Regions from separate parts of the Homo sapiens genome. Here region 1 is linked to region 2. Evidence: fine-mapped expression QTL. A gene starts in region 2. The other region holds a variant in brackets. All regions are shown on one strand. Distances are from middle to middle.

The links. PIP is the estimated chance that this variant, and not a neighbour inherited with it, causes the effect.
Region 1: its variant is fine-mapped to the expression of NPPC in esophagus muscle (GTEx, PIP above 0.99).

The regions. Positions count from the first base shown.
Region 1 is chr2:231,893,165-231,898,532 of GRCh38, forward strand. No RefSeq gene overlaps it. Among named protein-coding and RNA genes, the nearest start is that of MIR1471, 3.6 kb to the left of the region's middle. The variant C/T (reference allele first, on the strand shown) is at 2,467.
Region 2 is chr2:231,923,521-231,928,888 of GRCh38, forward strand. It overlaps NPPC (natriuretic peptide C), which reads right to left and starts at 2,876. Exons shown (of 3, transcript NM_024409.4): 1 at 2,640-2,876; 2 at 1,885-2,195. The coding sequence starts at 2,729. The coding sequence ends at 1,905. RefSeq lists silencers at 1,770-1,859, 1,940-1,989, 2,945-3,164 and an enhancer at 3,566-4,220.

The DNA of each region.
Region 1 (5,368 bases), 30 kb before region 2:
TGGTAACTGCTTAGTAAATATTAGCTACTTTTACAGTGAAGTAGAGGATAGAAAGGAGTTGCATTTTTATTGGATAACAACCCTAGACATTTTGTGCATTCCAGAGAAAGGTATGAAAAGGAACTTCCTGGAGCTGCCTGGTCTGGGGCGTGCAAGCATCCCTGCTGGCATCTCTCTATGGGTCTTTGCTTCCCCCAAGCATCATGGCTGAAAGGAATTTTATGAACTGTTGCCTTTCGATCTATTTCCAATCTTATGTGCATGCCCTTTGCTGCAAGACGCTAAAGTGTCTCCCACTAGAGTAGGCAGAGTGTATTTCTCTGCTCCATGGATGTTGGGCTTGGCTATACGACATGCTTTGGCCATTGGAGTGTGGGCAGAGTGACAGTATGTCAGTTCCAAAGAGTGTCAGTGCTGCCACCCACCCCTCTTGCACTTTCTGCTTTCCTCCATGGGAAGAACATACCCCAGGTAGCCACTGGCCTCAGAATGAGAGACACATGAAGAGAACTAAATGCAACCCAGGGCCTGAAGGAGAGCTGCTCTGGCCAGCAGGCACATTTGTGAGTGCGATATAGATGATTGCTGCTCTAAGCCACGGGGATTGTGGAGTTTGTTATCCAGTAGGACTCAGCAGAAACCTGGCTGATACAATGTTTTTAGGCTCAACAGGGTGATCACAGCATGAACAGCAGAGTACATGGCTCCAGACATCCTACAAGCTGCTGTCCGAATAAACTTCTAACATCACGCCTTTCCCCCACTGCCTGTATACTTAAGTCCACTCTCCTTTGCTCTACGGTGAAGGCTCTTCTCACTTGAACTGCAACCAAATTTTCCTCACCTGTCCCCTCCTCCCTTAACAAATTTTCCATCCCAGGAGCAGTGGCTCATGTCTGTAATCCCAACGCTTTGGAAGGCTGAGGTGGGAGGACTCGAGCCCAGGAGTTCGAGACCAATGTGGGCAACATAATGAGACCTTATCTCTACAAATAATAATTAAAAAATTAGCCAGGTGTGGTGGCACATGCCCATAGTCCCAGCTACTCGGGAGGATGAGGCGGGAGGATCACTTGAGCCTGGGAGGTCGAAGCTGCAGTGAGCCGTGATGGCACTACTGCACTCCAGCCTGGATGACAGAGTGAGATCCTGGCTCAAAAAAAAAAAAAAAAAAAAAAAAAAAACAGAAATAAAAAACCTAAAACAAAAACAAATACAAAAATCTTCCATTGCAGCCATTCTTAAACCATATGTAAAGTTCTGCTGCTGACTGTTTTTCTCCACCTAACTCCTAAACTTCATGAAGACAACCAGCCGTCCCATTCATCTCCCGCTTCTCTGAACACAGGTTGTCAGAGAGGAATGGGGCCCACCCATGATTCACTCTCACACCCTCTCTGTCACTCTGGTGCCTTCGCCCTACTCCGCTCCATCCCTCTGGGTTAGAAGTAGGATGTGGTACCTAGCTGCTTCTTACCCAGATCTCTCTGACATGCAGTCCTGGTGCCCTTTGTCACCCCATGTCAGCTCTGGGCACCCTCCCTGGTCCATCCTTGTGTTAACAGGACCCAGGTGACTCCTGGCACAAAGGGGGATGTTGGAAGCTGAGGGAATGTTTCCTTGCAGGGGCAACAGAGGCAGAGAAGAGTCCAGGCAGCCTTGAGGCGTTAACGGAGACTGACCTGGAGGCCAGGCCATGTTTGTTAATGAACCTGAGAAGCTGCTGAAGGAGGCCTGGGAAAGCCCCGACTTGACACCTGTGGCTGCTTCGAGCTCCTGAAGGCCATTCTCCCCTGGCAGGTGGATGTCAAGAAACGAATACATTCAAAGAAGAAGGGGAAAGATATGGTTTGAATCTGTGTCCCTCCCAGATCTCCTGTGGAATTATAATCCTCAGTGTTGGAGGTGGGGCCTGGTGGGAGGTGGTTGGATCATGGGGGTGGATTTCCCTCTTGGTGCTGTTCTCGTGAGAGTGAGTGCATTCTCGCGAGATCTGCTCATTTAAAAGTGGGTGGCACCTCCCTGCTGTCTCTCTCGCTTCTGCTCCGGCCGTGTGAGGTGTTCGCTCTCCCTTCACCTTCTGCCATGATTGTAGGTTTCCTGAGGCCTCCTGGAAGCCGAGCAGATGCCAACCTCATGCTTCCTGTATAGCCTGCAGAACCATGAGCCAATGAAACCTCTTTTCAAGTTATCTGGTCTCAGGTATTTCTTTATAGCAGTGTGAGAACAGACTCATACAGGGAGTGAGGACTTCTCTGATCAAAGGAAAGCAGCCACCTGGTTTTTGTCCAGTGGTTCACTGAAAATATTTTACTGAATAAAACTTTTCCTAACTGGCAAGAATGGTCTAGAAGCAGGTTGCTCAAATAGTGGAAGAAGTCCTCTTGAGGTCAAGGTAGTCACTGATGCCTTGACTTAGAACAGCAAAGCCACTACCGGAAAACCTGAACGCGCAAGATCGCAGTT[C/T]ACAATTCAGAGCAGAGGGCCTGTAGCCCTTCGAGGCCCGAAGCCAGAGAATGCCGGAGGAGAGTTTTATTGCAGGAACTTAAATTTAACCAGCTGGAACTCTTTAAACAATCATCCTATTCATATATTTAAAATAAATTGTGCATCTTTTAGCAGGCAGTCAGCGTTTCGTTATTAAGATGGAAGATGGGACAGAGTGTTCTTGGCTGCGTTGATCCCAGAATCCCAGGCTCCTTTTCAGGCGCGCTTAGCATGTGGTAAAGACATTTGCGAAGGTAAGTGTGTTTCAGGCCTGTCAGACTGGAGCCCGCATACCTACACAGCAAGCAGCCGCTGGTCAACTGAGCAGCTCAAAGGGAGACCTTTCCAAGGTGATGTCATTTTCTCCTGACGTTCTACCAGAAGCCTGTAGGGAGCAAGAAAGTTGGAAAGAAAAAGGACGTTTTAGAAGGTTTAGTGGATTTACCAAAATCTTCTGGTAACAAATAATAAAATATTTCATAGAGCTACAATAGTTGAAACAGTGCGAAGTGGTTAAAAAAGGAGCAGTTCCAATAGATTGTTTTTTTTTTTTAAATAGACTTTAAGATACATAGGAAGTCAACATAAAAGGGAAAAGGAAGCTTATTCCTTGAAAACAACCAATACTATTATATGAAACCTGACAAGTTTTACCATGAAAAAGTATACACAATTAGAAATGAATATGCAGAAATAACCCCTGGTACCAAAACCTGACAAGTTGGCACAAAAAATTACACAGATCAATCTCTTTTCTTTTTTTTGAGACAGAGTCTCATTCTTGTTGCCCAGGCTGGAGAGCAGTGGTGCGATCCCAGCTCACTGCAACCTCTACCTCCTGGGTTCAAGCAAGTCTCCTGCCTCAGCCTCCCAGGTAGCTGGGATTACAGGCACCTGCCACCAGGCACAGCTAATTTTTTGTATTTAGTAGAGACAGGGTTTCACCATGTTGGCCAGGCTGGTCTCAAACTCCTGACCTCAGGTGATCCACCTATGTCGGCTTCCCAAAGTGCTGGGATTACAGACATGAGCCACCGTGTCCAGCCTCTTCTCTTTTCTTCTTCTTTTTTTATTTTTTGGAGCCAGGGTCTTGCTCTGTCACCCAGGCTGGAGTGCAGTGGTGTAATCACCTCTCACTGCAGCCTCAACCTTATGGGTTAAATTGATCCTCCCACCTCAGCCTCCTGAATAGCTGGGACTGCAGGTGCACAACCATGCTTAGCTAAATTTTTTATTTTTTGTTGAGACAGGATCTCATTTTGTTGCCCAGGCAGGTCTCAAACTCCTGTGCCCAAGCGGTCTGCCCACATTGGCATCCCAAAGTGCTGGGATTACAGGCCTCCCAGCCAGATCAATCTTTCTTACTTTTGAATATTGACATAAAAATCCTAAATAAAATATTAGCAAATTCTATTCATCAATATTTAAGCCATAGTTTTATCACAGGAGTGTAAGAGTCGTTAAAAATTTGGAAAATGTGGTCCTGTAATTTACTGCATTAATACGATAAAGGTTATAAAAAACATATATCATTATCTTCACTGCTTCTCAAACTTTGATGTATATAAGCGTTACCTGAGGATCCTTTAATGCATATAAGAATAAAAAAATGCATATTCATGGCAGGACTCAGTGACTCACACCTGTAATCCCAGCATTTGGGAGGTCGAGGCCGGTGGATCACTTGGGGTCAGGAGTTTGAGACCAGCCTCGCCAACATGGCAAAACCCTGTCTCTATTAAAAATACAAAATTAGCTGGGCGTGGTGGCTCATGCCTGTAATCCCAGCACTTTGGGAGGCCAAGGCAGGTGGATAGCCTAAGGTCAGGATGTTGTAACTGAGCGAGTTGTAGAGAAACGCCACACTCTGAGACTAATTCAGGAGTCCTTTATTGCCGGCGACTGAGAGACGGCTAGCGCTCAAAATTCTCTCGGCCCCGAAGAAGGGGCTAGATTTCTTTTTATACCGTGGTCTAACTAGAGGAGGGGGAGTTTAGCTGAAGCAATTTTTACAGAAGCAGAACAGGCAAAAAGTTAAAAAAATTAATTGGTTACAGAAGTAGTTACAGAAAAAATAAACAGTTCCAGGTGCAGGGGGCTTAAACTATCACAAAGATATAAAGGCAGGGGCTCTAGATGCCATCCACCGAGCGTCCCCAGGAGCTGCTGGTTCAGCTTGCCTCAATATCTTCTCAGTAAGTGCATTCCTGGATGTGCATGGAGTCAGCTTGCACCAGTTATGCCCTTAAGGGAGGGAGGTAAAGGGGCTGTAAGTGAAGGAACTAAAATGGAGTCTGTCTGGCTCTCTCAGCTAAGAGAGACAATCAGGTTAAAACAAGGTAGGGTATCACAAGGAGTTCAAGACCAGTCTGGCCAACAGAATGAAACCCCGTCTCTACTAAAAATACAAAAAATTAGGTGGGCGTGGTGGCGGGCGCCTGTAATCCCAGCTACTAGGGAGGCTGAGACAGGAGAATTTCTTGAACCCAAGAGGCAGAGGTTGCAGTGAGCCAAGGTCACGCCGTTGCACTCCAGCCTGGCAACAAGAGCGTAACTCCGTCTCAAAAAAAACCAAAAAAACTCGATGTAATCTTAGACTGGCCATGTATGGTGGCTCATACCTGTAGTCCCAGCATTTTGGGAGGCCAAGGTGAGAGGACTGTTTGAGACCAGCCTGGGCAACACAGTGAGGCCCTGTCTCTACAAAAGAAGAAAAACAGAAAATTAGGCATGGCTAAATGATAAAATAATGTTCTAGTTGAATTTATACATATATACATATACATATAAATAAAGATCTAAAACTTCAATATGGCAAATAACATTATCTGGGCAAAATAATAGCAAAATACATGACAGACAAGGAGTAAATGTGCCAAAT
Region 2 (5,368 bases):
AGTGAGGGTGGGGTTTTTATTTTTCATTTAAAAAATCCCAAATAATAAATCCACACCGCCCTTCCCAAATAATAATAAAACAGCTGGTGTTGGGCGTAAGCCGGTGTTGAAGGTGTCGACGGTAAGTGTTCATCTATGCTAAGAGAGCTGGTAGGAGATTATTGAACCCCCCTGATCAAAGGGGTCGAGAATTCTTAACAATGTGGATTCCTCCTACACAGCATCTTTCACCACCCGTTTGGCCATCACTTGGTGACCACAGACATCCAGGCCCAAGAACAAAGCCCCTGTGGGGATGCGCATTCCAGGTACGAACCAATGGAGAGTCACTAACATTTGCTCAGGTTCTAAAGTTTGAACTTGATGCTTAAATCAAACTGAAAATTTGAGGCCTCAGACTCCGTCTCTTTGTTGTTTAGACAGGAGAGAAGAGAGCAAAGGCATTCCAAGGGTAGCTACTGAAGGCTGGTCCCCAAGTGTCAGAATCATTCTTCTCCCTGTGCAGGGGAGAGTCAAGATCACAGACAACTACAGCCTTTGCAGAACTGGGGAGAGGCCCACAGCCGAGTGAGGTCTGGCTGCAAAGAGAGGAAGGGCACTGGTTAAAACCTCGGGCAGGTGGGAGTGGCCATGGGCCAGGGTGTGCTGGTTTCTCTGGTCATTGACAAATATTTCCACGAGTCTGTTCGGGGTGCAGTGGGTCCTAGAGTGCCTTAGGCCAGCACTTCGCCCTTAAGCTGTTCAATATGGAGAGGTGAATGGGTTCACAAACTGTGAAAAAGTGTTCTGTACTGTAAAAAAGAGACAGTGTGCTGGACAGGCGCTCTTGTTTCCCTCCGGGAGAAGATCCGACACTGACAAGGGTTTCTGGGGAGGAGACAGCAGCTTGCCCGTAGCCTGGGATGGGACAGTCAAGGTGTGGGACAGGCAGTGGCAGCTGCTGAGCTGGAGGCAAGAAAGCGAGAAAGCCAGGTAAGCCTGATCCTAACGCACATGACTGTCAATGTCAGAGGCTGGGATGTTATTCAGTGGGCACGGGCAGGCGGCAGGAATAGAGAGGAGGGAAAGAGGAGAGGTGAGGCTCTCTGCAGCAGTAAATTACCACCACGCGGCACCCGGCAGGGGGTGGCGGTAGGGCAGAGGTTTCCAGCCCTAGTGCGGGGTGAGACCCCACACCAGAAACGGAGCCCAGAGCACCGGTTGGGTCGGGACAGGGTTGGTGAGGGACTCTGGGACGTGTTGAGTTCGAGGCTGGGGCAAATAATATTTACTTTAGTGTCTTTCCTATTCCCTGAAATAGTGCCACAAGCACTGAGATTCACCCCCGAAGCCACCAGGCTGCAGCTGCCTCAGGACCCTGGACAGACCAGTTTGCCCACTGCCTGGGTTTAGAGAAGGGACAGGAATCGGAGTGTCCCAGGCAGAAGGGCGCTCTGACAGTGCCAGCAGAGGGCTACTCTCACTACAGGGGGCATGGTGGCCAGCAGATGATCGATGTCCCCTGGACTTGTGGGTGTAACCTTCCTTCTCTGCTCCCACAAACCCATGATCTCCTCTCAATCCCCCCACCAGCTGGCCAATAGGGGCCAGTGCTGCTAGTTCAGCTACGGTTCAGGGGTGGGTGAGACACCACCAAGCCTGTTTCTGCTTCTCCAGAAGAAGCCAGGTGGGTTCAACCAGGCTGAGCCGTTTCTGACCTTGCCAAAGTTCCCCGATCACGTTATCCTTCGCTTTCTTTGTCTGTAAAGTGGGATAATAAAGGGGGCGGCTGGCAAACGCCTAGCACAACTTGAGCAAAGGCGGCTCGCGCGCCTCCGAAGGCCGGCTGGGCGGCGGGCGGTCCCGGGCCGGGCTGGGGCTGGGCGTCGGGTGGGCCGTACTCACCGCCGCCAGGGGGCGCCGCACTAACATCCCAGGCCGCTCATGGAGCCGATTCGGTCCAGCTTGAGGCCGAAGCAGCCCTTGGACAAGCCCTTCTTGTTGGCTCCTTTGTATTTGCGCGCGTTGGGGTGCTCTTGCAGAAGGCGAGCCCACGCTGCCCGCGACTTGGTGTCCACGCGCAGGTCCCGGAGCAGTCGCGACCGGTCGCCCTTGAGATTGGCGCCCCCGCCCCCGGGAGCCTTGTCGCCCTTCTTCTGACCGCCGCCCGCAGCCTGCGGCTCGGCCAGCTCCTCTGCCGGCGGGGTTCGCGGGACCTGTCCGAGGAAAGAGCGGGCAGGTGAAGGGACACGCGGCTGCAGCACGGGGGACTCTGATGCTCCAGCCCCACGCGCCCGCCGGCGCGGGGTGTCCCTCCCAAGCCCAGAGCCGCCCCCACCGATGCCGGCCAGCTTGGCCCCGCATCCACCTGCCACGCGGCCGCCTTCGCCGCTCCCTCCGGAAGCCCCCTGCCCTCCCTTTGCTGCTCGCCGGGCAGGCCACACTGGGGTAGGGGGCTGCGCATGGGCCGATGTTCTCCGGAGGCTGGAGAAGTGGACCCCCGAATCCGCGCTTCGAGGGCTCCCCGGCTCTCGCCCACGCGCATCTCGGAGGAGACAGCCGCCTGCCTTCCCTCTCTCCTGGGTCCTGCGCGCCGCATTCTCCAAGCCCCCAGCCTCCCACGCCTCTCCCAGGCTCGGCGTCCCCACGACAGCACCCACCTTCGGCGGCGCCCCGGGCTTGGCTTCGGAGGGCCGGAGGGAGAGCAGCGTGAGCAGCAGGGCGCAGGCCAGCAGCTGGGAGAGATGCATGGTGCCGCTGGGGTCGAGGGGCGCACACGGGCGGCAGCGAGGGCGCGCAGGTCGGCGGGCAGACCAGCAGGGGGATGCGGAGCAGGCTGGCTGGGCTGCAGGGCGAGCAGGGTCCCAGTGCTGCGCGGCGCCGGCTGGGTGCGCTCTGAGCCCGTGACTCTGCTCGCGCCTTTATAATCCAACCTGCCGCTGATGTCATCCTCCCGCCCACCGGGCCGCCCGGGCCAATGACACCACGCACGCGGCCGCGCCGAGGGCCGGGAGGGGGCCGCGGGGGCTCCCCTCCCTTATCCCACCCCGGAGGGATCCCGCGGCTCGGCGGGCTCGCTCCAGGCTGCACTTGGAGCTGCAGAGCTGAGCGCACAGGGGAACTCCATTTGCAGCGAGCGCGCGCCCTGGCCTGCCGAGCATCGGTGCGCCTGGTGCCCTGTGCACCCACTAGGTCCTCATCGCACTCACTCTACCTGGAAGGGATACGTAGCCCTCTTTGCAGGTGCAAAGACAGGCTCAGAGGAATGAAGTCACTTGCCCAAAGTCATACAGGCATAAAGTTGGCGCTGCCCGAAATCCACGCAGCCCTGCTTGTCGCCAAACTCTTCCCTGGGCACCTGACAGCCGCGGGATGGCATTGCAGCTCCGCCTTTCACCTGCCGGTCAGGGCGGGAGCGCAGACCACAGCGACGTCGTTAGGTTGGGGAGGCAGAGGATGGGGTTGGAGGACTGGGGTGGGAGGCGCAGGGAGAGCGGGGTTCGCCTGGGCCGCAGGGGGGAGCGCAAGTCTTCCACACTGGAGAGTGCAGGGGTGTCGCCAGCCTGAGTGTTTGAGCGCAAGGCGGGAACGAGGGGACTGCGAGCGCGGAACCAAGATATTCATGCTCATGCGTGTGCTCCGCGGCATCGTATGCTCGCCAGTTACTGCTCTAGGTTCACGTTCAGCCGGTTTCGGCCACACAGAACGTCCCGGGGTCTGACTCCGCTGGTGAACTCCCTCTGTGGGAACAATGCGCACCTGACCTTGCCTGCACCCACGCGAGGATCCGCTGCTGGGGGAAGCCCGCTCCAGTATCCTGTGCACTTTCACAGGCTGGGGAGAGAGCTTCCTAGCCAGCGGCCCAGTCCAGCCTCTGCCAGCCGTGACAGGTGGTCAACTTCCCGTTTTTGACTGTAGAGAGGTCCCCGTGGCTCTCGGGACATGGCCACATATCCCTACCACTCACGAACTTGCTCTCCTTGCACTGGGCTTCTCGGTCCCTTGGACACTAAGGAGTGTGGTGGGCATTTGGGCACTGCGGTGTGGGCCGCAGAGGCGGAGAGCCCAGATCCCCCGAATTGATTGAAGAGCAGGAATCTATGACTGGCTGCTGCTGAGCAGGACGCAGGCTGGAGAGAGAACAAATGTTGCCGCAGGAGTGCAGTGGCTGTCCCCAGGCGTGAAGGCGATTCTGGGGAGACAGTAGCCCAGACGAGATTTTCCAGGGAGAGGAAGCTGTGCCTGAGGCAGGAAGGCAACTGGAGTGAAGAGGGGCTTGGAGAACCAGGTTCCCTCCAAGCCTCCCTCTTCCCTCCGTGGTAGTGAGCCTGGTCCCAGAGCTGCTAAGGCGGCCGCATCATGGTCTGCTCTGTCGGCACCTTTCTCAGGCTACCCCTTCCCACTCTCATACCCTGACTCACAACATTGGAGCAACCACTACACAGGTCACTTTGCTTAGGAAACAGCTAACACCTGAGGTCTGAGTTTGGGGCAGCAAAGTTTCCTGATCTCCAGGAAGATCCAGACATCAACAGGGCACCTTCTGTGGATTCTGGTGAATTGAGTCACCACCTCCACGCAGCCCCCCAATTCCTCTCCGTGCTAACACCCATAGAGTGGCACCACTCTTTCATTTGAGGAGAAAGGAAGAGGAACTAGAAAGCAGTATAGGGAGGGGTATCCAGGTGGGCTGTGAAAGTTCCCTCTGCTTTTTGCCTGCTGTGCAAAGAAGGATGTTACCATCTGGAACTTCTCTGACACTTGCTTTCTTTATACCTGTTTAAAGAGTCAGGCAGAGCCACACAGACTGACTCTAGAGTCAAGCACTGGGCTGGTTTCCAGGGGCCAGCAGTACATCCTCTAAAGCCCCTTATTAAGGAAATCTTCCGCTGTTCATGGCTACTTCCTTCTGTCTGAACGTCCTTAGGTTGGTCCTTCCTGTCTTCTGTGTTCCTAGACACATTCGCGTCCAGGTGATTGACTATCTAGGTCTCCTCTCTGTTTGAACTTTGAGGCTAAATTAATAAAACTGACACCCCCAACCTACTGTGGCAGAGCCGATTCCCTGGACTCACCTTCCCATCTTTGGAAGGGAAATCTGGTGAGCTGCCACTCCTGACCACTGGGCGGTGGTCATCTGCAGAGGGAGGCTTCCCGGGGGGCAGGCTGTGGAGCAGCTTCTGCTTAGCTGGGGCCTGGGAGGCAGGGTGGGTAAGAGTCAGAGGCCTGGGCAGGAGGGGCCACCGGGAGGTGTGCCATCAGCACATAACTGCCTTGGAGATGAAGGTTTCCCCTCTCCCTTTGCTTTCCTTGCCTGGGGAGCTGCAGAGGACGCCCACTCTTCCTCCTGAGCCTAGATTTGGAACTCAGGTCCCTTTTTGTTGCTTTT